Regions from separate parts of the Homo sapiens genome. Here all the other regions are linked to region 1. The links come from fine-mapping of genetic effects on gene expression. A gene starts in region 1. Each other region holds a variant in brackets. All regions are shown on one strand. Distances are between the middles of the regions.

Region 1 (10,458 bases):
ATAAAATAGTAAATTACAGTACAACAGTATAACAATACTCTTTGTACAATTTTTTTTAAAGTAAACTTTTAAGAAACTGTTAACAGTGGATTACCTGTGGGGGGAGGAAAAAAGTAACATTTTTTACTCTATCATTAAATTTTTTTTTTTTTTACCATATACCTGTATAACTTTTAACTTAAAATACACAATTCTTTAGGTACTCTATTCCCCTAATAGAGTACTTAAGGCCTGCAACTCTCACCCCTGCAATTTGCCCAGCATCTTGCCCCTGCAACTTGCCCCTGCAACTCTCACCCCCACACCCAACCCAAAGCATCCCATATCTGAAAGCTAACTGAAACTACCTGGTAGAACTTCAGCTACTAAATAATATTTTGGAGATATGGAGCTTTCCTTTAAAATATCTTCAATTACTTCCCTAAAATCACCTCTGAGGAGAAAGAATCCTATCTTACCTAAGGAAACACAAAATCTCATTTCTTTTCAGGTCCCTAACCATCCTCTTCTAGAGAAAGACAATGGTCTTGGTTATAAGAGCCCCTCCTTCTCCTTATGGGATCTAATCTTGGCTAATTTCACTCTCCCACATAAAAAGAGCAACCTCAACTGCCACTGAAAAGGAAGGAGGGCCTGCTCCTTCGGAACTAAGTAACAGCAGAGATCCTACTCTCTGGTCTGTCTCAGCTCTCATCACCTTGCTGTGGATGGCCAACCACTACTCTGCACTTCTATAGGACAGGGTGTCTTCAGTCCTGTTTAGTGCATCATCCCTGGTACTGTATGTATATGGAAGTTTTGTACCTGTTCATTTTAATTGAATCAGGTAATTATCCGTCAAAAAAGAGAATGGCAGGCTAGTGGAATACTTTTAGTCCTTAAAAAGATGCCTCAAAATAGTTTCTTACTTTAATCAGTCTTTCCCCCAAGCCTGTTAGCTTTTATGTTTTACATAGCTAAACCAAGTATTTTTAATTACTACTTATTATTAATGTCTAATTATTAGAACACAATGATTATACTTTTTAAACCTCAAAGGCTTTAAGATTTGAACAAATAAATTTTATTCATCTAAGTTTTATTATCATGATTTTTTCACTGTGCACGATCACTCATGCCAGCTAAAACAATTACAGTCTCAACACAGCAAATTTATTCTTAATTCTGAACTAATTAATGAGAAAGGATTCTAAAACCTTTTTCAAGTAATGGGGGAAATGGTTAGAATCAAGTGGTTGTAACAGAACAGTGTGAGGAAAGGGCTTCTTACCTCTACTCTCCAAGGAGTCAGAATTGCGAACCATTTGGCAGCTTCTTAAAAAGTAAATACACTCTCAGAGAAACTACTGGGCTTGTTTTTAAACTAAGTATTTTTGGAATCTTTAACATTCCCGAACAGGAATACGAAAACCAAGTAAAACGCCTATTGTAACTAGAAGTGACAGATGACTTGTGTAGCAAACTGAGTTTAAAAATGAAAAAATACACGCATACTCATGCACGCACTATATCTTGTAACAAAACAAAGGTCAATACTAACTTTCCCAAATTACTCTTAGAAGTTTCACAAAGAATAAATAAATGCCATGTCAAGTAATGTTACATAAAGAAAGACGGCTCCCGGAGACAGAGACCTACAAGAGGCTATCTTCTGAGACAACCTAAATGGACTGAATCCTAAACAGAAATTATTAAAAACCAGACGCTGAAACAGACGGCTAACCACAAAACTTTATTCTTGGTTAAATGAATAAAAAGGTGAGAAGGGGATGGAGGGTAATGTACTACCCTGAATTTTTATTAATAAATATTGCTAAATCCTGAATAGAACAAAAAAAGACAATGGGGAAACTTCTAAGCTTCCAGGATATCTTAAGGGCTGCCCCAGTTCCACCACATGAATATGACTGTGACCTCAGATAAATCAATGAAATTAAAATCTGAACCTAATTTCTCATGTATAAGTGAGTTGGAGATCATCCTTAAGTTTTCTTGTTGCTCTTTAACACTAACAGAGGAAACACAAATGTATTCTTTTCCAATATACGTTATATACAGTCCATGTCATTCAAGAGTCCGTATGCCAAATCATACTGAGCACTCCTGTTAGTTCTAAGGCAGTCTCTAAATTTCCCAAGAGGTAAAGCAGAAAGAATACAGCTTCCCGAAATATTCCTTCCCCACAAAGTTTTGGGTATTTTCTACCATTGCACCCCTCTCCAGGGCAAGCCCTGCCTAATACAGAGTATCACTTTATCTTAGGCCTAACAAATTATTGATAAAGCCTACTGCTCAAAATGTTACTTCGTTAAACAAAGCTGCAGAACAATTTAAACAACTTTCATCCAACAGCCAACTCGGTAGAATCTTATTACAAATAAGCTTAATACAAACATCTCCTAACAACAATCACTATCATCACCACATCTCTCTCTAATATGGGGAGAGGGGAGAGACATAACACGAGAGAACAAAGCCTACAAGAGTAACAAAAGCTGCTGTAAAAGAAAAGTTAATATAGGGAAAATCAGCCTTAACCGAAACAAGGAGAAAAGAAAAAAAGAAAAAAGGCCAAGACAAACACTACCTTCCCATTTAAAATATACCTTTAAGTAAACGCCAGCTGAGAAGAGAACAATTTTTAAAACCATCAGAAAAAGGAGGAAAAAGTCACTATTTTGGTAATTTTTATAAAGTCTAAAGTGCATCTTGTTAGACATATTTGTAAATGTATATTAAGTACAAATTTTATTTATAAGGAATAATGTTCTTAAGATGTGTTTTTACAGTTAAGTTTCTGAGACTAAATCTATCTTCACATAAAAGTTCCCATGTAATTTTCACCTACATATTCAGCACTACAAATTTTAATTAGGTTTTCTGCTATCACCATGAGATACAAGATTAATTGTTGCACGAACTGACCTGCATACACCATTGAATACTCATTTTATTGTCCCTAAAGATGCGAACATCTCAGACATGTGTACTGCATGAAGAGCTGTCTTTCAAGTCCATATTTGTGGCTTTTAATTACTTTACCTGACCACTACATGAGTTAATATAAAAAACGTTCTGTCTGGGAACTCGGGATGTGTTAACTGAGAACAATGACTATACTGCCGTTCAAGCATTGGGTAATTACGATTTATTTACAGCTCGCCTCCTGTATGTAAACACAACTTGAGTTTTTGAAGTTCATTAGGAAGATAGTATAGGATTACCCAACTCTCTCCACACCGCAGACCAACCCTCTAAATTAAGGCTATACCCAAAGTTTTCGAAACTATTTCATCAACAGGGTAGGATCAGTCTGGGCACCACTGCCCATCCATCACCTCTTATTAAAAGTACGAGAAGCACTTTCTTCGACATAAAAAAGGGTTAACCCTCGCTGGGGGAGAGAGGCTGTTGAAGACGCGCGTGGAGTGGGTGGGTAGCTGCTCTACCAACCCTTCCCGGAGCTCGCCCCGTCCGCGGCAAGGAACGCAGCAGCCTGCAGCTCCGAAGGCGAGGGGCGGCGTTTCTGGTTTCAGTCATTCGTCCAAAATAACTGTCGAGCTACTTAAGAGTTAGCTTTCACGTCTCTACCAAAAACCAACAGCAGTAGCAGCAACAACAACAAACAAGGTTTTTCTCCGGACCGAAAACTTTTAAAGTAACATTAAAATAACAGTGTAAAAACAATAACGAGTCACAATTGCACACCATTTTCCCCGCCGTTCCTTCTGAAAGGAAAGCTAGAACCCAGTTGTGGCCTGGGAGGAGTCCCTCCACGCCAGTGCTGGGCTCTTCCTCAACTGGCTGCTCGGGGACCACTCGGGGTGGCGCGGTGAGCGCGATTTCCCTCCGGCGAGCGGCGAGGGACAGTGCAAAAATGTCACGCTCAGCCCGTCCCCTGGCCCGAAGCGGAGGCCAGGCGGCGCGCGGGGACCCGGCGGCGGGGGCGAGAGCGCCCGCGGCCCCGACCCGCGGTCCCCGCCCGCCCCTCGCCCGGAAGGGGGAGAAGCCCGCCCGCGGGAGGATTCAACAGGAGCACCGCGCCGCCCGCCTGCCGCCCGGGAAACAGCCGCCGGCCGGCCGGGGCGCGGGGGGAGGGGCGCGGCGGCGGCGACGGCGGCGGCGGGAGGGCGCGGGCGGCCGGGCGGCCCCGAGACCCCCGCCCGCGCGCAAGGTCACCGCCCGCCGCCGCCGCCGCCCCGGCCGGGATCAGAGCGGCAAGTTTAATTTTCCAGAGGCTGCGGCAGAACCCGCGGCGTGGAGGCGCGCGCCGGCCGCGGGGCCCTCCCCACCCCCACCGCGCAGCCGGCCCGCGCCCCGCGACCCCCGCCCCGGGCCACCGCCAGGCAGCCACCCGCTGCAGCCCCCGATGCCGGGAGGCGAGTCGCGCCTGGCACCCAGGCGGGCGGCGCTTCAGCCCTGCCACACACACGCACACAGCGGCAGTGGCGGCCGCTGAAAAATGGAGCGCCGCAGCCAGAGAAGAGAGACATTTTCTTTCCGTTAACTGAATTGTTTCCTACCTCCGGGTTGCCGACTCGCTACTCCGCTCACTCCGGGGCTCTCCGGGATCCGCCGCCGCCGCCGCATCCAATCGCCTTCTCCCCCCCCCTCCCCTTCCGCAGCCAGCCCTGCCGTTCCTCCTCCTCTCCGCTTCAAAATGGCGCCAAGCGCTCTTCGGCGGCTGCTCCAATCGAACCGCCGCGGACAGCACCCGGGGGCAGGCAGAGCGCGGCATGGGTGCGCAGCGCCCCCTGCCGACCAGACGGCCCCGAGCGCGTCCGCCCTCCGAGCTCCACCCCGCCCCGTCCGCGCGCGCGCACGTCCCTCCTCAGCCCCGCCCCGTCCGCGCGCACGCAACCACACGGGCACGCCGCCGCGGGGCCCGCGAGAAGGGCAGCTGTCAAGGCGTCCACTACTCTTGCGGCTTCCTAGACCTCTACCGACAAAAACCACACCGATTGTTACGTAGCCCTATCTTTTTAGATAAAGGTTGGGAGATTTTTTTAAACCCTGACATTCAGCACAGGTGTTGTGATGGGTAAACAGAATTGGTATTATTAACTACTTTGCTCCTTACTTGTTAACTCTGACCTAGTCGTCTCGGAATGCCATACAAATAGTTTTCCTACACTTTACGTGTTATGTCTTTATTAAATCTCCCCGCTTTCCTAATTTGAGGAATTGTTTATAGGTGGTAGGCTGGCGGAGACAGAGTAATTGAGCCTGTGACGAAGCATTCCATTCCTTTGGCAGAATTGTCCTTATTAGAGGAAGAAATCATCTGGAGACCACAGGGACACATTCCAGGAGGTGGGTCTCCTCCCCTCTTCACCTCTAAGGGATGCCAGTCCCTCCTGCAGCTGTAGAGTGGGTTTAGCCTGGTCACCACAGCAGATCACCTACCTTGCGGGAAGGTTTCCTCCCCAGCCGGGTCCCTGCCAGAGCTGAAGAAGGGACTTCCTCCTCTTTTTACTTTAATACCATCCCTGCTGTAAGGAAGTTTCCCCTGATATGATGTATTTGGTTACTAGAATTTTGTTCCAGGGAGAATTTGTTTCAACAATGAACAAGCAAAGTGTGAATGAATGGATTACAGTAGGATACTTATCAACTGAAACAAAAGAGAGGTAATGCTGATATATAAACTAATGCTACTGTGTTAGAAAAGGTATGTACATCGGTATTCCATCGGACCCGGGCACCTAGAGATACTGAGACCTCTTCATTTCCATTTTTGTGGGATTCGCTGGACAATTCCGCCTCAGTCTCCTCCAGTGCTTGCTAGACCAATATGTTGTGTTACTGTATTCCTGTGTCCAAGATTTTGCCACTGAATACTCCAGGTTCTACCCATTTTATACATTCCTCGATGAAGTCTACTATGAGTTTTTTCTGCCCTCTTTTTAAAATTATCTCAGGAATTTTCTTATTTTACATCGTTGTTCCATCAACATAAATCTTGTATGGGAGAGTAGGATGTCTAGATCTAGAAAAACCTTTCCTCTTTGGTTGTTTTTATTATGTTTTTTACTTTATTTTCTTCAATTCCCAAACCTCCAAAGCCAGGAAGCCAGAAAGTTTCAGAAGAAAGCCAGGATGAAAGCAAGAATTTTTTTTTCTTTTTTCTTTCTTTTTTTTTTTTTTTTTTTTGAGATGGAGTCTTGATCTGTCGCCAAGCTGGAGTGCAGTGGCGCGATCTTGGCTCGCTGCAACCTCCCTCTTGAGTTCACGCAATTCCCCTGCCTCAGCCTCCCAAGCAGCTGGGACTACAGGCACACACCACCACTCTCAGCTAATTTTTTGTAATTCTTAGTAGAGACAGAGTTTCACCATGTTGGCCAGGATGGTCTCGATCTCCTGACCTCGTGATCTGCCTGCCTCAGCCTCCCAAAGTGCTAGGATTACAGGCGTGAGCCACCATGCCCGGCTAAGAGTTTTTGTATAAATTATTCAGTGCTCTTATCCCCATTATTTGACACCTGGAAGCCTCAGTAAATATTTTGTTGGATGTATGAATTGTTTAAGAATGTCACTCTACATCTTGTATATGGCAGTGAGTCCTGAAAGGGCTGAAGGTGTCACGTCAACTTTGTGAGCAGTTTTGCCAGTTTCACCATTAACCCTCTCTCTTATAAAATGATGCCTTGAATTTCAATGAGGCCCGGAATACATATTGCCCACGTTAGGCTGCTAACACCACAGGATTAAGCCCAAGAAAAGAGTGGGCAGAAAGGAGATAGCCTTCAAAATAGCTACATTGTAAGGGTCAATGGGGCAATTACCATTAGGACAGACAGAGGAAAAACCCTAAAGCTTTAATGAGGCATAGTTTCTAACAAAAGGGCATACTTTTATATGACTGCAAGTGGCTTTACAGAAATCAGTAATATAAACCTTCATTTAAAACAATATTGTTTGGGAAAACTAAAATCTAAAGTTGATATTTGAACAAAAATAATCTTCTGTGTTTGGGATTTTTAAAAATAGCCAAGTTGCAATTCATTAGGAGCAACATAACACAACATTGTTTAAGACAGTTTAAGAGTGTGAACCATTCAAAACTCAGTTGTGAATGCTTTCTACACCAAGAAAGAGAAATTATGTGGGAATTATGTCCAAATGCTGGTTTTATACAGAAATGGTTAGGAGAATTGTCTTTGATTATGAATAACCACAAATGTAGTTCCCACCTCTACTAATTTTACTTTGTCACTATAACAAATCATCACAAAGTTGGTGGCTTAAAAGAGCACAAACTTATTGTCTTACTGGAGTGCAGAAGTTTGACAGGTATCTCGCTGGGCTAAAATCAAGGTGTTGTCAGGGCTGTGTGTCTTTCTGGAGGCTCCAAAGGAGAATCCCTTTTCTTACTATTTCCTTCTTCCAGAGGCTGCCCAGATCCCTTGGTTCATATCCTCCTTCCTCCATCCGCAAAGCCAGCTCCATGGCGTCTCTCTGACCTGCTTTTGTCACCGCAGCTCTTCCTCTGACTCCCTCATCCACTTTTAATACTCTTGTGATTATATTGGGCCCACTTGGATAATCTCTAATTTAAGGTCCATTGATTAGTGACCTTTATTCCCCTTTGCCATGTAACATAACATATTCAAAGGTTTGGGGATTACGACATGGATATTGTAAGGGGACCATTATTCAGTCTGCCACATCACTCATATTTGAGTTACCTGGGCTTTTTTTAATAGAGTCCAAATTTGAGGTTAAAGAGGTTAGCAAGTTGAAAGACATCAGGAATGCACACAATTAACCTGGACAGTCCTAAATATACCCCTATGGCCCCTACTGCATTTTGAGTACAGCCTTGCTGCACTACAGCATGGTTTCCAAAATATGGTGAAATGTTTATCATATTATACATAGTAGAGCACACTGGGCAGCTAATTAGTAAATGATAAGACTGGGCCCTACCTAGACAAACATTACCGGTTCAGCATAATTCAAGGTATGTCCCAAAGGCTAGTCAAGACAAAAATATGATCCCTGTTAGCCTGCAACAGTGCTGAAATTCCCACTAGACTAATTTATTGGGTTAAGGCATTGGATTCTCAGAAAACATGTTGGAATGTGGTTGTGTTACTTGAAAAAGTTAGGCAGGGCTCGGTGGCTCACGCCTGTAATCCAGCACTTTGGGAGGCCAAGGCAGGTGGATCACGAGGTCAGGAGTTCAGGACCAGCCTGGCCAAGATGGCGAAACCCCGTCTCTACTAAAAATACAAAAATTAGCCAGGTGTGGTGGCAGGTGCCTGTAATCCCAGCTACTTGGGAGCCTGAGGCAGAGAATTGCTTGAACCCGGTAGGGGGAGGTTGCAGTGAGCGGAGATCGCACCACTGCACTCCAGCCTAGACAACCGAGCGAGACTCCATCTCAAAAAAAAAAAAAAAAAAAACACTAACCCATTCATATCCATTAGGAGAAACTAAGCCCAACAGAAATTAGCTTTGTGATATTTTAGGCATTAGGCAAACTGGTGAGGCATTTTGATAAACTCCAAGCCCCTGAAGTTGATCCTTCATTCATGACATCACTACTGCTGAAAGATGGTATACGGGCTCTTTTCCTTCACCCTCATCCAAGACTCAGCCCCTGGTGCCTCAAATTTCTCCCTCCACAATTAATCCCCTGCATGAGGCACTGTGCCCATCCTGTGATCCTCTTTACAATGCAAATATTCCTGAAAGGATGCCACATTCATCTACAGTCCCAGGGCAGCTGTTCTTAACTCGAGTGGAGTGGAAGAATACCAAAATCATCTGGGAAATTTCTGTAAACTAGATCTTCAGAAACTATATTGGAATATGTTTGATACATCTAACTTTTTTAAAGAGTTCCAAAGATAGATGTCAGAAATTTTTACACAAAATATCGTAGCTTGCATTATCATCCAAAGAGAGATTTGGGTTTAAGAAAGCATTTATCATCAGTTCAACTTCTGGAAATAATAAAGAGATATAGAACCAAGAGCAATTTCACTTGAAAAGTAAGGAGAATGACAAAGGAGAATTTAGACTGCTGCTTTGAATATTTGTGCAAAGGCGTATAAATTCCTTCAATATAATATGTTTCACATATATTCACATGCAATCACTAATCAATGTTATTTACTTTTGCGCTATTTGAAAAATCTACAGGCCGGGCATGGTGACTCATTCCTGCAATCCCAGCACTTTGGGAGGCTGAGGTGGACAGATAGCTTGAGCCCAGGAGTTTGAGACAAGCCTGGGCAACATAGCAAGACCTCCCTCTATAAAAAATAAATAGTTAGCTGGGCATGGTGGCATGCACCTGTAGTTCCAGCTACTCGGGAGGCTGAGGAGAGAGGATCACTTGAGATGAGGAGAGGTTCCAGTAAGCAGTGATCGTACCATGGCACTCCAGCCTGGGCAACAGAACAAGATTCTGTCTCAAAAAAAATTTTTTTTTAATTTAAAAATCAGCATTCCAGTGTAAGATGGCCAAAAACTCCAAAACAATTTTTCAGTTTCACGTTTCTGTTCTAGGCAAGCAGCCTGTTTTTGAGCATAGGGTAGTAGCTCACTCTATATGGAACCAAGTTTGTATCACCTCTTATTCCAAGTAAATTGACTCCTAATACTTACTCTTCATGGATACGTAGGAAGCATACTTTGCTCTAACACAGGAATTCTATTTCTTCTGGCTGTCTCATTTAGTTAAAACTTGATATTTAAAATTAGCTTTATTCAGCAGCCAGCAGATGGAGCTATTGAAAAATGTTGACATCTCCATTCTTTTTTATGAAATAAAACTGGTTTAGAGATACACTTTAATTTTTTGCTGTGTAAATAATCTGCCCATTATAGAGAAATCTGGAACTGCAGTTAAGATTAAAAAGAAAAAAAGATCACTCATAATTATGCCACCAGAAAAATTTACTTATAATGCTTTGATATGTATCAGTCCAGAACATATTATATTCATATATTTAGATTTAGATTTGTTTTACAAAACATAATGTTTTATAATATAAAATTTGCTCCTAAAGGCATAGAAATCTCCAAGGATAATATTAAAATACTTGCAACTGTACAGGACAGGCAAGGACCAATGACAACAGATACTGGCTGTAGCTTGAATAGGACCACATATGCTGCCTGCTGTGTGAAGCATTAACTCTTCAATTAATGGATGATGGGCAAGGTCTTGGGGGCAGCAGGGAAGGGTTTGGGTGCCCAAGGAGGAAGGGGTAGGTTCAGGGAACCAACTGTATAGCAACCTTATAGAAGTGTTTCATTATTTTTAACATCCAATACAGCCACAATAATAAATACCAGGTGAACTATCAGCTCTAGAAATCTCTGGAAGAATATACAAGTTTACACAAAGGTAGAGGACTTCTAGATGGGAATCTAGGTGACTTGGGAACAAAGGTGAGAAAGAAATCTGTCACTGTAATACCTTTGATACTATGAGCATGCATT
Region 2 (10,458 bases), 51 kb before region 1:
AGCATCTATCGCAAATAGCTACTATCAGTAGTAGGCACTCAGGAAATAATGAATGAATGAACGACCAGAACTATTCGAAGAAATTATGGTTACAGCAAAAAGTAGAGCTAGACACAGGAGAAATTAAAACAAGTTAGAAAACTACTGCAAAATTCCAAGAAAGAAGTAATGAGGAACTGACTGTAGGCAATGACTACAAAACAAGAAAACTGATTCAACGACTTACGAATGATTATACCAGAGAAGCAGAACATGATTATAAGATTCGAAACCTTTGTTCCTAGAAGGCCATTTATTTAAATATTTATTGAGAATTTGCTTGGTGCAATACACTAAGTACTAGGAATACAATGATGAGCAAATGTACAAGAAAGAGCTCTGCCCTCGTTGTAATGGAGATGGGGGAAAACCCAGAGAGAGAGATTAAGTCTTGGGAAAAATAAAGTTTGCTCTAGAAGGCAACTGTAGATTATACATCTAAAGTTCTAGAAAAAAAGTGTAAAATGAGAAAATATTTTTAGAACAATTTATTGTTCATGCTTTATGGGTTTACAAGATGAGTAAAGAAAATGAGTAGGGTGAGCTGAGATACCAACACTAAACCTTAATGAAATACCTATAGTGATTGGGGTGGTGGGAGCCCACAGGGGAGATAAAGAAGGAAAACAGAAGAAAGTCAAGAAAATGGCTTTAGAAAAATGAGAGTAATTGTTACAAAAATCTACGGAAAAAATGTTTGAAGATGAAGGGACGATATATAGTGATATTACAAAAACCTAGGCAAAAATGTTTGAAAATGGAGGGGTGACATATAGTGATGATCACCCTCAGTGAAAACATACAAAATGACTTCAGCAAATACTCCCTTGAACTTGACAGGATATTTGAGAAAAAAGTGTCCAGAAAATGATGGGAATGAATACCAAATTACGAGATAAGAAAAAGGTGAAAAGAAAAAAGAGGAAGCAGAAAAGGAGCAACACAGAAGAAGAGGGTATCATTAAGTCAATGAAAAACAGGTATTGATACAGAGCTGCTCCTTAAACAGAATGTCAAATAAATGATTTGACATATAATAGTTCCTTTCATCTTTGGGGAATCTCAACCATTCACTATTAAGGTAGAGCAAACAAAAAATGAAAAATAACTGCACTTAGAAAATAGTCATATAAAACTGGCCTATATCAGACTCTATTTTATAAACTATAGTATATTACAGAAAAATGTGATTTTTTTTTTTTTTTTTTTGAGACGGAGTCTCACTCTGTCACCCAGGCTGGAGTACAGTGGCGTGATCTCGGCTCACTGCAAGCTCCGCCTCCCGGGTTCACGCCATTCTCCTGCCTCAGCCTCCCGAGTAGCTGGGACTACAGGAGCTCGCCACCACGCCTGGCTAATTTTTTGTATTTTTTTTAGTAGAGATGGGGTTTCACTGTGTTACCCAGGATGGTCTCGATCTCCTGACCTCATGATCTGCCTGCCTCGGCCTCCCAAAGTGCTGGGATTACAGGCGTGAGCCACCACACCTGGCCAACAATGTGCTGATTTATGAGTTTCTCCATTTAAAAAATATAAACTTTAAATTTACCACCAATTAATAGTAAAACTATAACCTAGAATTTCCCTTCTTTCAAAGGGTTATTTGAAACAAGCATTTTCAGAAAACAATTCAGTTCAAAAATTATCATATGCATATTATTATATTTACATTTTTATGTTCAGCATGAACAGTAAGCATAAGAAAATATTCTAATACTAGGCCATGCACAGTGGCTCACGCCTGTAATCTCAGCACTTTGGGAGCCCAAAGTGGGCAGATCACCTGAGGTCAGGAGTTTGAGACCAGCCAGGACAACATGGCGAAACCCCGTCTCTACTAAATATACAAATATTAGCTGGGCATGGTGGCGCATGCCTGTAGTCTCAACTACTCAGGAGGCTGAGGCCAGAGAATCACTTGAACCTGGGAGGTGGAGGTTGCAGTGAGCTGAGATCGTGCCGTTGCACTCCAGCATGGGTGAGACAGCGAGATTTCATCTCAAAAAGAAAAAAGAAAAGAAAATATTCTAATACTAAAGTTTTTTTTTAAAGTTCAAATAAAATGATCATTAATTAAATATATGAGAATCTTTTAATCACACTGAGTACAAGAAAAATCAATGAAATGGTCATTCTTTAATATTATCAGACATAAATAAATGTTCATAGATGTAACTAAACAAGAGACTGTAGTAAAAAATATGTAAGATATTTTCACTGAATAGAAAAGGAAAACAAAGTACTGACTAAAGAGCAAGAGCAATCATAACAATAAGCAATCCTATTTTTTAGTTGATTTAGGCATCCAAATCAACAAATAAAGACCGGCATCTGCCAGTTTCATGTTGATTTTTCTTAAAAATTCACAGTCACAGAAATCAAATCAAACCACTACTAGAATCCATACTGGGCCATGTTAATTTAAAGCTGTTTTTCCTTCTGGGATTTCACTCCAGGTTTGAGGTGGAATTCAAAGGAAAACATAAGATTTTGTAAAGAGTCTGATATAACTACAGAAGGCAGTCTTCGCCACAACTGCTACCTCTTGCAACCAGCAGATGGTGCCCTCCATAAAGACAACTCTTCAGTACACAATAATTAAACAGTGTAAGAAGTTTAGCTTATTCTTGTTGAGGGACAACCAAAAATCTAATGGGAGTTTTTCCTACGAGAAAAAACGCTAAGTAAATTATGCTATTCTCCCCTAAGCATACAACTTGAAAGCCCTGTTTACATATTTTCCAACTGTTTAAACAAAAATCTGCCTTTTTCAACATACAATTTTTTGACTAATCTACCATGCAGTTTGAATTAATCTTTATTAATTCAAAATCAGTGTATTTATGTTATTCCTTATTTGTTCTGGTAAAACAGTGACGGTGAATACTTTAGGAAGTTCTTTTAGAAACTGGACCCTTTCTTTGAATACATATTTTTGTTAATGTTTATTTGTAAAAGGGCAAACATGGTCACTTGCCTACATCATTTTTTAAGGACCATCAATGTTATGGAAGATACTAAAGTTTAACTGGCTCAAACAGAAAAGGAGCCCCAGGCCCTGGAATATCTCGACCTGCATCAGTTTCTAACCGCACAGAAAGTGTTCTGTTAAATCTCTTTAAAGTAATTCTTGTATATTAATAGTGATAATATCTCTCATTTATTGAGTGATTAGTATTTCTCTGCTCAGTAGTCAACTCGATATCCCATTGTGGGGGGTGGGGGGGTGGATAAAATTACGAATTTTTCTATTCACGTCAAATCTCCAACACACATTCTTGTACAACGCCGCCCCCGCCCCACGCCCCCATGTAGACTGCTGTTGCTTCATTGAGAAAACAGAAGCGCCATCAAACGGAAACCCTCAGCCTCTTATTACCCAATTTACATGCCTATGTACATTTGCACCCATTCCCTCCCTTCCCTCCTTCCCCATTCCTTCCTTCCCTCCCTCTTCCCTAATACCAGAAAGGAAATAGCCCTCCTCACATCAAAACACTAACCCCTTCATAAGCACACAAAATCCCATCCTCTACTCAAAGACTTTTACTTGATTAGTTATCTCCTCTTTCCCCCGTATCAGCATCCTCTGTGTCTACTAGATACTCTCTCAGCATTCAAATATATTCTGTTATTGGATGGATGGAAGGCATTCAGGCAGGAAGGGAAAGAAAATACAACATACCTGTTTAGACTACAAATACCTCCCCTGCCTCAGGTATTGTCCTCTCTCCCAAATTACCTTCACAGACAAGCTTCTCAAAGAGTAATCTATACTATCTACTTTCAATTCCCATTCACTATTCATATTAATCCAACCTGGCTTCCAAAGAGTTCCCCACCCGCACACTCCACCTCATCAGCAAAATGCTTTTGCCACAGTCACTAGCAGATTGCAAAAAATGACAACAAATTTTTCCATTCCTTGTATCTACACCCTTACAATGTGACTTTGCTGCTCCTCCCATCAAGAAATAAAAGTGTTTTTTCAGACCTAGAATCTGAGATGGCGTTATGACTCTTTTAGGCAATGGGACATTGAGAAGTTTAGTAAGTGTTTGTGCTCTGGGTTAGCTTACCTACTGCTCTTGGAATTCTGCTATGGAGATGTCGGCAAGTCCAAGCTATCCCAGTGGAAAATTAGAATGTATATGCACAGAGGCACATTGTCCCAGCCATGGTCATCATGAACAAGCCAGCCCTAACCAAATCACCAGGTGACCACAGAGGCATATCTGTAGATGCATAAGCAACCCCAGCTAAAATCAGCTAAGCCTGGTCCAGATCAGTAGAACCACCCAGATAAGCCAAACCCAAATTGCCAATATACACAATTGGGAACAGTTGTTTTCAGTAAGTCAGTCTTCGGGTGATTTGTTATGCAGTAAAAGCTAACTAAAAGTCATCAGTTGACCTCTATGTTGCCAAATCAAGTGAACACTTTTCTAATCCTTATTTTATTCATCTCAGCAGTATGATACACAGTTGACCGCAGCCTCCTCCTTGAAACATTATTTTCCTTTTGTTTCTTCTAGTAACACATTGCCTTTTCCTGATTTTTTCCTACCTTACTGGTCATTCCTGTCTCCTTTGATTTCTCTTCTACTCAACCTCCAAATATCAGTTAACTCATCAGAGTTCAATTCTCTTTTTACTGTTTATGTTCTTCTCCCAAGGCTTTTGCCCTAAGCTTTCTTTTAATACATACTCCATAAAGATCTCTCTTTTCAACTCCAGTCCGCACATACAATTGTCTACTTAACATTTCCACTTGGGTATTCTCAAAGATACCGCGAACTCAAGATACTCAAAACTAAACAAAATGTCTCCCAATTTTTTTCTCCCTCCAAAAAAATCCTCATTCTTCATTCCTCTCCCTCTTCAGTGTGTGTTGCCTTCATGTACCCATTTCTTCCTCACAGTTTTCTGGGAATGAAGCTTGGCAATTCCCTTTCAATATTTACAATCAACAATCAAATCCTATAAATGCTACCTTGCAAAATGTAAATGAAATCATTTACA[TTAC/C]TTCAAAATGTAAATGAAATCATTAGCCATTACTTCACCACAACATAAATCTACACCACATCCAACTCATTCTTCAGAGAGCAACCAGAATGATCTTAATAAGCTAATCTCTTCATATCACTGCCTTACTTAGAATTCTTAAATAGGTTCTCACTGCCCTTCGAATAAGTTCCAAATATACTAATCTGACCATTTGCTCATTACACTCCAGTCACATCTCTATTCCTTGAAGACACTAAACCAAGATCCTTCTGTCTCAGGGTGTGCTATTCCTTCTGCTTCAATAAACTTTTTCTCTTCTCTAGCCCTCATGCCTGGCTAACACTGCTCTTTCAAGTCTCACCTGTCAATCAGGGAAGCTGTCCCAAATCTACTCAGTCTAAATAAAATCTTGACTGCATGCTCTCACACCACCCCTGCACTTTTGCTTCAAAGAATTTATCATAAATGTAAATACAAATTCTCTAATGTGTTTCCCCTTCTGAACTGTAAACTATATGAGAAAAGTTTAGGGATCCTAATTTGTTCACTGCTACATACCTAATGCATAACACAATGCAGGTTAAAAAGCAAAAGCTGAATAAATGTTCTTACTAAGATGAACTATATAATTATGCCCATTTATAAACAAGGAAACTGAGGTTCAAAGAGGTTAAATAACTATGCTAAAGTTATCAACAACTGAACTTAAATTGAGCCATATCTGATTCCAAAGCCTATGCCCTTAACCTAATGGTTTTCCATCTCTGGTGCACTGCTGAATCCTCTAATAATCAGACCCAAACACTTCCATATGAAAAAAGCTCCATGAGGAAATTTACATGCCAAGTTTAGTAACAAATGCCTTAACACTACAATATAGTGCTAATTCTGCCTACTATCTCTGTAAGCATTTCTGATACTTCATATACGTAAGCATGACAGCTTTAATTTTTTAAAAACAGATCATGGTTTTCAAAGCTCTTTCATGCACACATTTTCCTTCAAAATTCTATAAAAGTAGGAATCATCCCTATGTTACAGATGAAGAAAATGAAGTTCAGAAAGCTGACGAACTCGCATACAGTCACCCTGTAGTAAGTGGCAGAGCAATGACAAGAGGTCAAGTTTTCTCGTTTTTACTTCAGGCTCTTTAGGGAATGCTGAATTGGAAATTAAGAATCAGAATACTAGGCCGGGAGCGGTGGCTCACGCCTGTAATCCCAGCACTTTGGGAGGCCGAGGGAGGCAGATCACAAGGTCAGGAGATCGAGACCATCATGGCTAACACGGTGAAACCCCGTCTCTACTAAAAATACAAAAAAATTAGCCAGGCGTGGTGGCGGGCACTTGTAGTCCCAGCTACTCGGGAGGCTGAGGCAGGAGAATGGCGTGAACCGAGGAGGTGGAGCTTGCAGTGAGCCGAGATAGCACCACTGCACTTCCAGCCTGGGCGACAGAGCAAGACTCTGCCTCAAAAAAAAAAAAAAAAAAAATCAGAATACTAAAAAATCGGAGCAAACTGAACAGAAACAAAAACGTTAGCCCAACCAGAAACTCAAGGCACAAAGATATTTTAGCTTAATTAGGCGACTACAATGGCACTAATCAAAAAGGCCAGGCCAGGCACAGTGGCTCACGCCTGTAATCCCAGCACTTTGGGAGGTTGAGGCGGCCAGATCATGAGGTCAAGAGATCAAGACCATCCTGGCCAACATGGTGAAACCCCATCTCTACTAAAAATACAAAAATTAGCTGGGCGTGGTGGTACGCACCTGTAATCCCAGCTACCTCGGAGGCTGAGGCAGGAGAATCACTTGAACCCGGGAGGCGGAGGTTGTAGTGAGCCAAGATCATGCCACTGCACTCCAGCCTGGCACCAGAGCAAGACTCCGTCTTTAAAAAAAAAAAAAAAAAAAAGACAGGCCAGGCATAGTGGCTCACACCTGTAATCCCAGCACTTTGGGAGGCCAAGGCAGGAGGGTCACTTGAGGGCAGGAATTCTAGACCAGCCTGGGCAATACAGTGAGACCCCCCCATCTCCACAAAAAAAAAAAAAAAAAAAAAAAAAAAAAAAAAAAAAAAAAAAAACGTAATTGGCTGGACATGGTGGTGCATGCCTGTAGTCCTAGCTTCTCAGGAGGCTGAGGCAGGAGGATGGCTTGAGCCCAGGAGTTCAAGGCTATCATCAAGTTACTGCACTCCAGCCTAGGTGACAAGAGTAAGGCCCGGCCTCTTTAAAAAAAAAAAAAAAAAAAAAGAGGCAGTAAGAAATATTGCTGAGGTTGTGAAGAAACTGGAACCCTCATATTTTATGGGAATGTAAAATGCTGCAGCCATTTTTGAAAAACGTTTCACAGTATCTTAAAAGGTTAAATGTTGGCTGGGCACGGTGGCTCATGCCTGTAATCCCAGCACTCTGGGAGGCCGAGGCGGGTGGATCACAAGGTCAGGAGTTAGAGACCAGTCTGACCAAGATAGTGAAACTCCATCTCTACTAAAAATACAAAAACTAGCCAGGCGCAGTGGCAGGCGCTGTAATCCCCGCTACTCGGGAGGCTGAGGCAGGAGAATCGCTTGAACCCTGGAGGTGGAGGTTGCAGTAAGCTGAGATCGCACCACTGCACTCTAGCCTGGGTGACAGAGTAAGACACTGTTCTCAAAAAAAAAAAAAAAAAGTTAAATGTAAACTTACAATATGACCTAGCAATTCCCCTTCTAGGTGTCCATCCAAGAGAAAACCTATATCCACACAAAGACTTTTACCAGAATATTCATGGCAGTATTATTCATAATGCCCAAAAACAACAAACAATCCAAATGTCTATTAACTGGTGAATGGATAAACAAAATGATACTAATTGGAATAAAAAGGAAAAAAGTACTGAAACAAAAGTGAATCAACTAGATTCTGTGCATGTACATATACATGTGCACATATTGGTGAAGGTGTTATAAAAGAAATTGGGACCAGTTAATCTAAGGCTTTAAGTCTCTGATAAGGAGTCTGGTCATTATCACATAAGGCAGTTGTCATTTTTTTTCTTTCTTTTCTAAGAAATTTAAAGAGAAATGAGATTTGTATTTTAGAGAATTTCCAAAGACAAAGACATACCAGCTAGAACACAGGAAGACTGCAGGAATCTATGAGGGACTGCAAGAGGCTCACTGAAGCAGTAACAGGAAGCTCTGAACAACTGGAAGATAACATAAGAGTATTTGAAGAGAGGATATAACAGAAAACAGGAGAGAAGTATAGTTTAGTAGGAGAAAAGAGATTGAGACAGAAGTAAAATCCAGGAGGCATTGCATAACATTACAATGTAGCTCTTTAAGATGACAATAAAATGGGCATAAAAGTACCACCCATATTGATATGTAAGGACCCAATGTACCATACTGTATACAGGACAAATGAGAGTACAACTATTAATTCTACCTCATTAAAAGTAACACAGTATCCATAAAGATAAACAAATATTCAACAAATCTGCTTACAAAGTTATGTACCTTGTAAATAAAATATTAATAATGAGTAAACTGGGGGAGGGGTTATAAGAAAAATTAGGATGTCAAGTCCACCAAAAAGTTTAATTTGATAAGTTTCTCAATAAATTTCCCTATAATGGGGAAAACTTAACAAAATCATTATAGTACATAAACACTTGATATATTCCTGAAAGACATTAGTTTTGAGGGACTGCATACGGATTAATATTACTAAATCTAATCTGAATCTAGTCTCACTGATTACATCTACCTTATATGCTTCCTGGCTAAAATCAACAACTTTGTTTTGTGACAGTGTTGTCCAAACACGGATAGCTGGTTTTGTTTTTGTTTTCTTAAATAGTTTTATTAAGACAGAATTCACATATCAAATAATTCATCTTTTAGAGTGTACAATTCAATAGTTTTAGATCTAATACTTTTTTTATGTAAAATATATGTAACATAGAATCTACCATTTATAAATGTACAATTAAGTGACATTATTAATTATATTTACAATATTGTGCAACCACTACCATTTCCAAAACTTTTTCATCACCCAAAACAGAAAGAAACTTGTAACCATTAAGCAATAACATCCCATGCCCTGTTTTCCCCAGCCCCTGGTAACTTCTACTGTCTGTCTCTATAAATTTGCCTATCCTTAAGTGCCTCATGTAAGTAGAATCACAGTATTTGTCCTTTTCTGTCAAATTTCACTGAGTGTATTTTCAGGTTCATCCTGTTACAGCACTTATCAGAGCTTAAATTCTTTTGAGTAGCTGGGACCACAGGCGCGCGCCACCACGCCTGGCTAATTTTTGTATTTTAGTAGAGACGGGGTTTCACCATGTTGGGCAGGATGGTCTCGATCTCCTGACCTCAAGATCCGCCTGCCTCAGCCTCCCAAAGTGCTGGGATTGCAGATGTGAGCCACCACGCCTGGCCCAGAGCTTCAATTATTTGTATGACTGAATATTATATGTATATACCACATTTTGTTTATCCATTCTTCTGCTAGTGGACACTTGGTTTCCATTCTTGGCTACTGTGAACAGTGCTGCAATAAACACTGCTGTACAAATACCCATTTCAGTCCCTGTACAAATCTTTTCAGCACACAGCTAGCAGTGGAATTGCTAAGTTTATGGTAACTTTATGATTAGCTTTTTGAAGAACCACCAAACTGTTTCTCACAGCAGCAGCTAGCTACATCAGCAAATGAGGGCTCCAATTTTTCCACATCCTCTTCAACAGTTATTTTCTGGTTTTGTTTTTTTATAGCCATCCTAGTAGGTATGCAGTGTAACCTCATTATGTTTTTGATTTTCATTTTCCTAATGATTAATGGTGTTGAGTATCTTATGTGCTTACAGGTCTATTTGTGTATCTTTGGAAAAATGTCTATTCAAGATCATTGCTCACTTTTAAATTAGGTTGTCTTTTTGTCATTGACCTGTAGTTCTTTATATATTCTGGACATTAAATCCTTGTTAAAGATATGACTTGCAAATATTTTCTTCTGTAGGTTGTGTTTTCATTTTCTTATGTCCTTTGATGCAGAAAAGTTTTTAATTTTTATAAAGTCCAATATATATTTTTTATTGTTTGTGCTAATAAATTCAGGTTCATAAAATTCTACTCCCATATTTTCTTCTAAAAGTATACAGGCTTAAATCTTACATTTACATCATTGATCATTTTGAGCTCATTTTTATCTACTATGTGAAGGAGAGGTCCAACTTAATTCTTTTGCATGTGGAAATCCAGTTGTCCCAGTGTCATCTGTTGAAGATATTCTTTCCCTCTTTGTTTTTAATAAGAATATCCTGGTTCCTCCTCTAGAAATTTTGATTCAGGAGGTGTGGGGAGAAGCTTCAGATTCTGCCGTTTTTAAGGAATGTCTCAGACAATTCCTATGGT
Region 3 (10,458 bases), 130 kb before region 1:
ATCATAGAGTAAACTTACATAAACCTAGATGGTATAGCCTACTCATACCTATATGGTATGACCTATTGCTCCTAGACTACAAACTTGTACTACATGTTACTGTACTGAATGCTATATGCAATTATAACACAGTGGTAAATATCTGTATATCTAAACATAGAAAAGGTACTGAAAAAATATGGTGTAAAAGATAAAAGTTGCTCTCTCTCCCTCTCCATCGTCTCCATCTCCCGCTTTCCACGGTCTCCCTCTGTTGCCGAGGCTGGACTGTACTGCCGCGATCTCGGCTCACTGCAACCTCCCTGCCTGATTCTCCTGCCTCAGCCTGCCCAGTGCCTGGGATTGCAGGCGTGCGCCGCCACGCCTGACTGGTTTTTGTATTTTTTGGTGGAGACGGGGTTTCGCCGTGTTGGCTGGGCTGGTCTCCAGCTCCTGACCTCAAGTGATCTGCCCGCCTCGGCCTCCCAAGGTGCCGGGATTGCAGACGGAGTCTTGCTCACTCAGTGCTCAATGTTGCCCAGGCTGGAGTGCAGTGGCGTGATCTCGGCTCGCTACAACCTCCACCTCCCAGCCGCCTGCCTTGGCCTCCCAAAGTGCTGAGATTGCAGCCTCTGCCCGGCCGCCACCCCGTCTGGGAGGTGAGGAGCATCTCTGCCTGGCTGCCCATTGTCTGGGATGTGAGGAGCCCCTCTGCCCGGCCACCCAGTCTGGGAAGTGAGGAGCGCCTCTTCCCAGCCGTCATCCCGTCTAGGAAGTGAGGAGTGTCTCTGCCTGGCTGCCCATTGTCTGGGATGTGAGGAGCCCCTCTGCCAGGCCACCCAGTCTGGGAAGTGAGGAGCGCCTCTTCCCGGCCGTCATCCTGTCTAAGAATTGAGGAGCGTCTCTGCCTGGCCGCCCACTATCTGGGACGTGGGGAGCGCCTCTGCCCGGCCGCCCCGTCTGGGATGTGAGGAGCACCTCTGCCCGGCTGCCCCGTCTGGGAGGTGAGGAGCGTCTCTACCCGGCCGCCACCCCATCTGGGAGGTGAGGAGCACCTCTGCCCGGCCGCCACCCCGTCTGGGAAGTGAGGAGCGCCTCTGCCCGGCCACGACCCCGTCTGGAAACTGAGGAGCACCTCTGCCCGGCCGCCCCATCTGAGAAGTGAGGAGCCCCTCCGCCCGGCAGCCGCTCCGTCTGGGAAGTGAGGGGCACCCCCGCCCGGCAGCCACCCCGTCTGGGAGGTGGGGGGAGCCCTCGCCCGGCAGCCGCCCCGTCTGGGAGGTGGGGGGTTCCCCCGCCCGGCAGCCACCCCGTCTGGGAGGTGGGGGGCGCCCCCGCCCGGCAGCCACCCCGTCTGGGAGGTGGGGGTCGCCTCTGCCCGGCTGCCACGTCTGGGAAGTGAGGAGCCCCTCTGCCCAGCCACCACGCCGTCTGGGAGGTGTACCCAACAGCTCATTGAGAACGGGCCATGATGACAATGGTGGTTTTGTCGAATAGAAAAGAGGGAAATGTGGGGAAAAGAAAGAGAGATCAGATTGTTACTGTGTCTGTGTAGAAAGAAGTAGACATAGGAGACTCCATTTTGTTCTGTACTAAGAAAAATTCTTCTGCCTTGGGATGCTGTTAATCTATAACCTTACCCCCAACCCCGTGCTCTCTGAAACATGTGCTGTGTCAACTCAGGGTTAAATGGATTAAGGGCGGTGCAAGATGTGCTTTGTTAAACAGATGCTTGAAGGCAGCATGCTCATTAAGAGTCATCACCACTCCCTAATCTCAAGTACCCAGGGACACAAACACTGCGGAAGGCCGCAGGGTCCTCTGCCTAGGAAAACCAGAGACCTTTGTTCACATGTTTATCTGCTGACCTTCTCTCCACTATTGTCCTATGACCCTGCCAAATCCCCCTCTCCAAGAAACACCCAAGAATGATCAATAAATACTAAAAAAATTTTAAAAAAAAATAATAAAATAAATAAATAAATAAAAATAAAAAATAAAGATAAAAGTTGTACCCCTGTGCAGTGCAGCTCCATCATAATCTTAAGAGACTACCATATACATCTGGTCTATCGTTAACCAACGCACCATTATGCAGTACATGACTTTATACCTAGTATAGTTTGTTTCTCTGACTGAACCCTGAACTATATGACAGATTATGTGCACATCTTTTCTAATTATCTCTGGGATAAGTTCCTGAAAGTGCAGAGCCAAAAACTATACACATTTTAAGTTTGCATATATTACCACGTTACCAACCTAGAAGCATAGCATCATTTTATACTCCCACCAAGACAGCATTGTTGGAATGCTAACTAATACTGGTTGCATCACATAATTGCTTATATTTGTATTTCCTTGATTACATAAGCATCTTTTCATGATTTGGAAGGCTGACAGGACTTCCTGCTTATAAATTTCCTGTTCATTCTCTTTGCTAGTATTCTACTATGAGATTTATATTTGTTATTCCTTCATTAAGAATCTTTAATACATTGCAGCCAGGCACAGTGGCTCACACCTGTAATTCCAACACTTTGGGAGGCCAAGGCGGACAGATTACTTAAGGCCAGGAGACAGAGACCAGCCCCGCCCACATGGCAAAATCCAGTCTCTACTAAAAACACAAACAAAAAAAAATTGCCAGGGGTGGTGGCACACGCCTGTAATCCCAGCTATTTGGGTGGCTGAGACACAAAAACTGCTAGAACCTGGGAGGCAGAGGTTGCAGTGAGCCAAGAGATCAAGCCACTACACTACAGCCTGGGAGACAGAGTGAAACCCTGTCTCAAACAAAAAAAAAAGGGGGGGGGGTCTTTATACATTGCAGGTATTAACCTTTTCTAACTAATATATACTGAAAATAGTTTTCCAGCATATCATTTGTGTTTCCAACTTATTTCATGATTTTGGCTTTTATCTAAATAGTGGTTCCTCACCCCCACTAAAATAAAAGGGCAGAGAGACTTAGCCTGTCCTCTTTATTACAATGTCCTCGACACCTAGAACTGTACTGTACACCTAGAACCATACCATACATGGTGGGGCAGGGAGTGGGGGGTAACACATAGATTTTTTTGCAACAAATGAATTTTTTAAAAATAATACAATCCAGGCCAGGCATGGTGGCTCATGCCTGTAATCCCAACACTTTGGGAGGCCAAGCTAGGCAGATCACCTGAGCCCAGGAGATCAAGACCAGCGTGGGCAACATGGCAAAACCCTGTCTCTACAAAAAATACAAAATTTAGACAAGCATGGTGGCATATGCCTGTAGACACAACAACTTGGGAGGCTGAGGTGGGGGGACTGATTGAGCCCAGGAAGTTGAGGCTGCAGTGGGCCATGATTGAGCCACTGCACTCCAGTCTAGGTAACAGAGCAAGACCCTATCTCAACAAAATAATAATAGTAATAATAACAATAATCCAACCCATCAATATTTCATTCATGACTTGGTATAAGTGTCCCTTCCTCTACAAACAAGGAAGTTATAAAAATATACTGGTTACTAGTATTTTAATTCATGTTATATACTTAAACCAAATCCATGTTATACACTTAATGCAATAATTTGTCTTTGATTCTTCTGGAATATATGTAAAATCAAAGTAAGCAGTCTATTTTCCTTTCAAAACTGCTTGCTAATTATTTACTAGGTAACGTACCTTTTCCTGACCAATGTATTTGTTAAGTATTATATCCCCCCATCCACCATTATTACAGCATTGCAAATTTCTTGTATACTTTACTTCTAGGTCTTCTGATGTTTACTCCCATAATAATGTAAATGATTGTTGGTTATATACAGAAAACTTTGGATTTTTACATACTCATTTTGGCTACCCCATTTTGAGTAGTTTTTCGGTTGATTCTCCTGGATTTTCCAAGAAAAATGAAAGCTTCTTCCTTTCCCACACTTGTATTTCTTATTTTATATTCTTACATAATTACACTAGCTAATGCTTCCAAAACAATGTTAAACAATAGCAGAGATAGTGTGGTATCTCACCTTGTTCCTGCTTTTATTGGGAATGCTACTGGTGTTTTACATGATGCTGCCTATTGGTTTGAGAGATATTAATTATGTTATGAAGGTACGGATTCCTATCTTATTAGATTTAATTAGAAACAGACTGATTTTTTTGGCCAGGCGTGGTGGCTCACACCTCTAATCCCAGTACCTTGGGAGGCCGAGGCAGGCGGATCACAAGGTCAGGAGATCGAGAGCATCCTGGCTAACACAGCGAAACCCCGTCTCTATTAAAAATACAAAAAATTAGCCGGGCATGGTGGCGGGCGCCTGTAGTCCCAGCTACTCGGGAGGCTGAGGCAGGAGAATGGTGTGAACCCGGGAGGCGGAGCTTGCAGTGAGCCGAGATCATGCCACTGCCCTCCAGCCTGGGCGACAGAGCGAGACTCCGTCTCAAAAAAAAAAAAATTCAGAAGCCCTTTCAGCATCTATCAAAAATGATCTATTGTATACCCTTTTCCCTACTTATATAATAAATTGTAAACATAAATAGTAGGCTTACTAATATTGTACCAACGCTCTCTGTATACTCCTAAAATTAACCATGTTTGGCCATAATATATTCTCGCTTTATTATTTAAATTCTCTTTTTGCTACTATCTTGCTTATACAAAAATCACATATTAGTAAGATTTGTCTTAGCGTTTTTTTTTGGGGGGGTGGGTGGGGAGGATATCTTTTACTAGGTTTTAGTATTCATGTTAGTTATCCTGGCTGTAAAGAAAATGAGTGCTTTCTTTTCTATACTCTGAACAATTAAAAGAATTAGAATTCCTGGTTTCTTATAGATTTGAAATATCTCCCTCAAGACACAACTTACATTGGTGCTTTTTTTTTTTTTTTAATTTATTGATTTATTTATTT[T/A]TTTTTTTTTTTATTGATCATTCTTGGGTGTTTCTCGCAGAGGGGGATTTGGCAGGGTCATAGGACAATAGTGGAGGGAAGGTCAGCAGATAAACAAGTGAACAAAGGTCTCTGGTTTTCCTAGGCAGAGGACCCTGCGGCCTTCCGCAGTGTTTGTGTCCCTGGGTACTTGAGATTAGGGAGTGGTGATGACTCTTAACGAGCATGCTGCCTTCAAGCATCTGTTTAACAAAGCACATCTTGCACCGCCCTTAATCCATGTAACCCTGAGTGGACACAGCACATGTTTCAGAGAGCACAGGGTTGGGGGTAAGGTCACAGATCAACAGGATCCCAAGGCAGAAGAATTTTTCTTAGTACAGAACAAAATGAAAAGTCTCCCATGTCTACTTCTTTCTACACAGACACGGCAACCATCCGATTTCTCAATCTTTTCCCCACCTTTCCCCCCTTTCTATTCCACAAAACCGCCATTGTCATCATGGCCCGTTCTCAATGAGCTGTTGGGTACACCTCCCAGATGGGGTGGTGGCCTGGCAGAGGGGCTCCTCACTTCCCAGTAGGGGCGGCCGGGCAGAGGCGCCCCTCACCTCCCGGACGGGGCGGCTGGCCGGGCGGGGGGCTGACCCCCCCACCTCCCTCCCGGACGAGGCGGCTGGCCGGGCGGGGGGCTGACCCCCCCACCTCCCTCCCGGACGGGGCAGCTGGCCGGGCGGGGGACTGACCCCCCCACCTCCCTCCCGGACGGGGTGGCTGGCCGGGCAAAAGGGCTCCTCACTTCCCAGTAGGGGCGGCCAGGCAAAGGCACCCCTCACCTCCCGGACGGGGCGGCTGGCCGGGCGGGGGGCTGACCCCCCAACCTCCCTCCCAGACAGGGCGGCTGGCCGGGCAGGGGGCTGACCCCCCCACCTCCCTCCCGGACGGGGCGGCTGGCCGGGCAGAGGGGCCCCTCACTTCCCAGTAGGGGCGGCTGGGCAAAAGCGCCCCTCACCTCCCAAACGGGGCAGCTGGCCGGGCGGGGGGCTGACCCCCCCCACCTCCCTCCCAAACGGGGCGGCTGGCCGGGCGGGGGGCTGACCCCCCCACCTCCCTCCCGGATGGGGCGGCTGGCCTGGCGGGGGCTGACCCCCACCTCCCTCCCAGATGGGGTGGCTGCCGGGTGGAGACACTCCTCACTTCCCAGACGGGGTGGCTGCTGGGCGGAGGCGCTCCTCACTTCTCAGACGGGGCGGCTGCCGGGCGGAGGGGCTCCTCACTTCTCAGATGGGGCGGTTGCCAGGCAGAGGGTCTCCTCACTTCTCAAACGGGGTGGCTGGGCAGAGACACTCCTCACCTCCCAGACGGGGTCGCAGCCGGGCAGGGGCGCTCCTCACATCCCAGATGGGGCGGCAGGGCAGAGGCGCTCCCCACATCTCAGAGGATGGGAGGCCAGGCAGAGACACTCCTCACTTCCTAGATGGGATGGCGGCCGGGAAGAGGCGCTCCTCACTTCCTAGATGGGATGGCACGCCGGGCAGAGACGCTCCTCACTATCCAGACTGGGCAGCCAGGCAGAGGGGCTCCTCACGTCCCAGACGATGGGCGGCCAGGCAGAGACGCTCCTCACTTCCCAGACGGGGTGGTGGCCGGGCAGAGGCTGCAACTCTCGGCACTTTGGGAGGCCAAGGCAGGCGGCTGGGAGGTGGAGGTTGTAGCGAGCCAAGATCACGCCACTGCATTCCAGCCTGGGCACCATTGAGCACTGAGTGAACCAGACTCTGTCTGCAATCCCGGCACCTCGGGAGGCCGAGGCTGGCGGATCACTCGCGGTTAGGAGCTGGAGACCAGCCCGGCCAACACAGCAAAACCCCGTCTCCACCAAAAAAATACGAAAACCAGTCAGGCGTGGCGGCGCGCACCTGCAATCGCAGGCACTCGGCAGGCTGAGGCAGGAGAATCAGGCAGGGAGGTTGCAGTGAGCCGAGATGGCAGCAGTACAGTCCAGCTTTGGCTCAGCATCAGAGGGAGACCGTGGAAAGAGAGGGAGAGGGAGACCGTGGGGAGAGGGAGAGGGATAGGGAGAGGGAGAGGGAGAGCTACACTGGTGGTTTTATTAGCGAATAATGTTTCAATTTTTTTATAACTAGAGTCTGTTAGGTTTTTGTCTTTCCTCATCTTGAACTTATTTACATCATTCTTAAAAATCCAGGTTTTCAAATACATTTACATAGCCATATCTAAAAGTTAAATAATTAAACTAAAATGATAGGCAAAGACAAATCAGAGATATACAAACAAAAAGGAAACAAAATCTAGATTTAGAGGGCATAAGCAAAACTGAGTTCCAGACGGAAAAGCATAAAACTATGTAGACAGGGTAACCTCATGATAAAAAAGGGGTGGTACATTTACTGAGTCCTGTATACTTAAGAATATCCTTCATTTGCCCCTACTTAAAAGTAGCTAGGGCTGCCTAGGAAATTCTTTAGTTATACTGTTTTTTCCATCAGAACTCTCCAGCTGTTGAATCATTAACTTCAGAAATTGTGTGTGGTTTGAAAAGAAGTCAGCCAGCTTCATTATTTTCCACTGCGCTGACCTAACTATGTTGCAGGAAGTCAGGGACCCCAAACAGAGGGACCAGCTGAAGCCATGGCAGAAGAACATGGATTGTAAAGGTTTCATGGACATTTATTAGTTCCCCAAATTAATACTCTTGTAATTTCTTATGCCTGTCTTTACTGCAATCTCTAAACATAAAATTTGTAAAGATTTCATGGACACTTATCACTTCCCCAATCAATACTCTTGTGATTTCCTATGCCTGTCTTTACTTTAATCTCTTAATCCTGTCAGCTGAGGAGGATGTATATCGCCTCAGGACCATGTGATAATTGTGTTAACTACACAAATTATATAGCATGTGTGTTTGAGCAATATGAAATGTGGGCACCTTGAAAAAAGAGCAGGATAACAACAATCGTTCAGGGAATAAGAGAGATAACCTTAAACTCTGACCGCCGGTGAGCCAGGCATAACAGAGCCGTATTTCTCTTCTTTCAAAAGCAAATGGGAGAAATATCGCTGAATTCTTTTTCTCAGCATGGAACATCCCTGAGAAAGAGAATACGCACCTGGAGGTATAGGCTTATAAACAGCCCCCCCAGGTGCGCCTGTCTCTTATGGTTGAGGCTGCAGAGCTAAAACAGACTCCAGTCTCCCATAGCGCTCCTAGGCTTATTAGGAAGAGGAAATTCCTGCCTAATAAATTTTGGTCAGACCGGTTGATCTCAAAACCCTGTCTCCTGATAAGATGTTATCAATGACAATGGTGCCCAAAACTTCATTAGCAATTTTAATTTCGCCTCAGTCCTGTGGTCCTGTGAGGCTTATTAGGAAGAGGAAATTCCCGCCTAATAAATTTTGGTCAGACCGGTTGATCTCAAAACGCTGTCTCCTGATTAGATGTTATCAGTGACAATGGTGCCCGAAACTTCATTAGCAATTTTAATTTTGCCTCTGTCCTGTGGTCCTGTGATCTCATCCTGCCTCCACTTGCCTTGTGATATTCTATTACCCTGTTAAGTACTTGATGTCTGTCACCCACACCTATTCACACACTCCCTCCCCTTTTGAAAATCTCTAATAAAAACTTGCTGGTTTTTGTGGCTTGTGGGGCATCACGGATCCTACCAATTTGTGATGTCTCCCCTGGATGCCCAGCTTTAAAATTTCTCTCTTTTGTACTCTGTCCCTTTATTTCTCAAGCCGGCCGCCGCTTAGGAAAAATAGAAAAGAACCTACATGATTATCGGGGCAGGTTCCCCGATATAACTAGTTTTTCTTGATATTTGTGAAATCACTTTTGCAATCCCTGAAAATTTAGCAAACTGCACCAGTATATTTTCCAAAAATGAGTCTTCACCTCCAGATTCATATTTTAAATCATTCAGAACAAATTTATTATTATTTTCTTGAATATTTTCCATTTCCCATTATTCTACTGTCTTCTCCAAAGATGTCAATTATGGTTTTTCACTATCTGCAATTCATTCCCTTTAACTCCATTTTTTCTCTCCAATTTCTCTATATTCTATGCAGATTTCCTCAAGCCAAATCTCTAGCTTACTGATTCCATCTTCCACATTGTTTATTCTGCTCCTTGCTACTTATATTAAATTATATTCTATAGTCAATATCCTTAGCTCTTTTTCATGTATTACTTCATTTTTGTTATCTTTTTTCTCTCATGTCATTTGCTGTTTACCTTCCTTGGCAGCTTAAATAACTAAGACAGTTATTTAAGTATTGCTTATCAGTTACTTTGGAATGCTAAGATATTTACATAGGTTTTGTGTTTGTTAACTTGCTTATCTGTATTCTGTTAATTCATCTTTGAATAAGAAAAATTCTCTCTGGCTTTGCTATTTAAACAAAAGTATAGTTAGCATCTCCCGGATGACTGAACACTTCTTTAAAAAATTAACATCAAAGCTCCCAACTCAGGCTACAGTTGCTTCATCACCTGGCTAAGTAGCATAGGAATGAGAGTTAGGACTAAAGGTAGTAAGTCCTTTTTCTCTGTGTAATTTATCTCCAAATTTGTTAAAACTCTTACAAGGATAAGAACCAGTCACTTGAGCTATGGGTACATCACATGTTATGACAGGATCCTCAGTTTTGGCACATCTAACTACTTTTAGGGGAGTCAGACTCCTGAGAGACAAGCTGAGACACAATGGAACTCATATAACTCATCGTTATGGAACCCCATAACTCATCTTCATTTTTTGTTTAATGGGTTAAGCGTATAATTTTCTTCTGTTCCCGTAAAGTTGGTAAAAAGATATTTCCTTCATGATTTTCCTTAGTCTTACCTCATCACTAAACTTTGCTCTTCCTGGTAAACAGGTTGACCTAAAGAAAAATACTATGACCACAAAGCCTCTCCTTTAGTCCTAGTACAGCTAAAATCAGGTTTTCTTTCTTTCTCTTAAAGTGTGTCCATATAGCAATATCCTCCCTCTAAATTAGCAAATAATAGGACACTTACAGTACACTGCCAATACATATCCCTTGTCAGTGCTCTCACTTTCAATAGAGTCTTAAGGGCACATCTGGTGCCAATTCTGTCCAGTTGGTGGTAGCTTTACTTAAATACATTTTTCTTTAGGTTCTTTTTAATTATTTTGATGAATTCAAGGGAAGACAGTTTAATCAACATTCTCTTAACTATATTATTTTTCCTCAAAATCAACTCACCCAATTTAATAATTTAAAAAATTAAATCTACATACATAGTTTATCTCCTGGAAGAAATTATTATGAGTTATTTCATCAACAACAGTGTGTGCACACTGCAGGAATTCAGTATCAGCTGAGTTAATTCTCCTCATGAGAAGTATCTGAAATATATTCAGTATATAAATCAAATATTTTAAATACTTCAGTTCCATATTAAAGCAATACATTTTAAAATGCTCCATGTACATTTTAAAATGTCCACCTTTTGACCCTGTTCTTGTGGTTCTACAAATATATCAAACCATGTTTCTTTAAAATATAAAAGTTACTAGGGAAAAACAATCTAGAATGAAAAT

Which allele goes with the higher level. Alleles are on the strand shown, and positions count from the first base shown. SD is a standard deviation of normalised expression in the study named. Not every link is listed here.
For the expression in skeletal muscle of the gene that starts at base 4,665 in region 1, A is the high allele of the variant in region 3 and T is the other (large effect, 0.93 SD a copy in FUSION).

What was found. PIP is the estimated chance that this variant, and not a neighbour inherited with it, causes the effect. A credible set is the group of variants that fine-mapping cannot tell apart.
Region 2: its variant is the best candidate, but not a certain one, in a credible set for the expression of PDS5B in whole blood (INTERVAL, PIP 0.53).
Region 3: its variant is the best candidate, but not a certain one, in a credible set for the expression of PDS5B in skeletal muscle (FUSION, PIP 0.77).

What each region holds. Positions count from the first base shown.
Region 1 is chr13:32,580,659-32,591,116 of GRCh38, reverse strand. It overlaps PDS5B (PDS5 cohesin associated factor B), which reads right to left and starts at 4,665. Exons shown (of 35, transcript NM_015032.4): 1 at 4,524-4,665. PDS5B-DT (PDS5B divergent transcript) reads left to right here and starts at 4,672. Exons shown (of 3, transcript XR_001749808.1): 1 at 4,672-4,740; 2 at 5,195-5,313; 3 at 5,548-6,099. RefSeq lists an enhancer at 3,561-3,620 and silencers at 3,851-4,100, 4,521-4,600, 4,611-4,980.
Region 2 is chr13:32,631,847-32,642,304 of GRCh38, reverse strand. The region is part of intron 1 of PDS5B (PDS5 cohesin associated factor B); the gene reads right to left. Among named protein-coding and RNA genes, the nearest start is that of PDS5B, 51 kb to the right of the region's middle. The variant TTAC/C (reference allele first, on the strand shown) is at 5,062.
Region 3 is chr13:32,712,121-32,722,578 of GRCh38, reverse strand. All of the region lies in intron 19 of PDS5B (PDS5 cohesin associated factor B), which reads right to left. Among named protein-coding and RNA genes, the nearest start is that of PDS5B, 130 kb to the right of the region's middle. RefSeq lists enhancers at 1,394-1,987, 7,680-8,664. The variant T/A (reference allele first, on the strand shown) is at 4,880.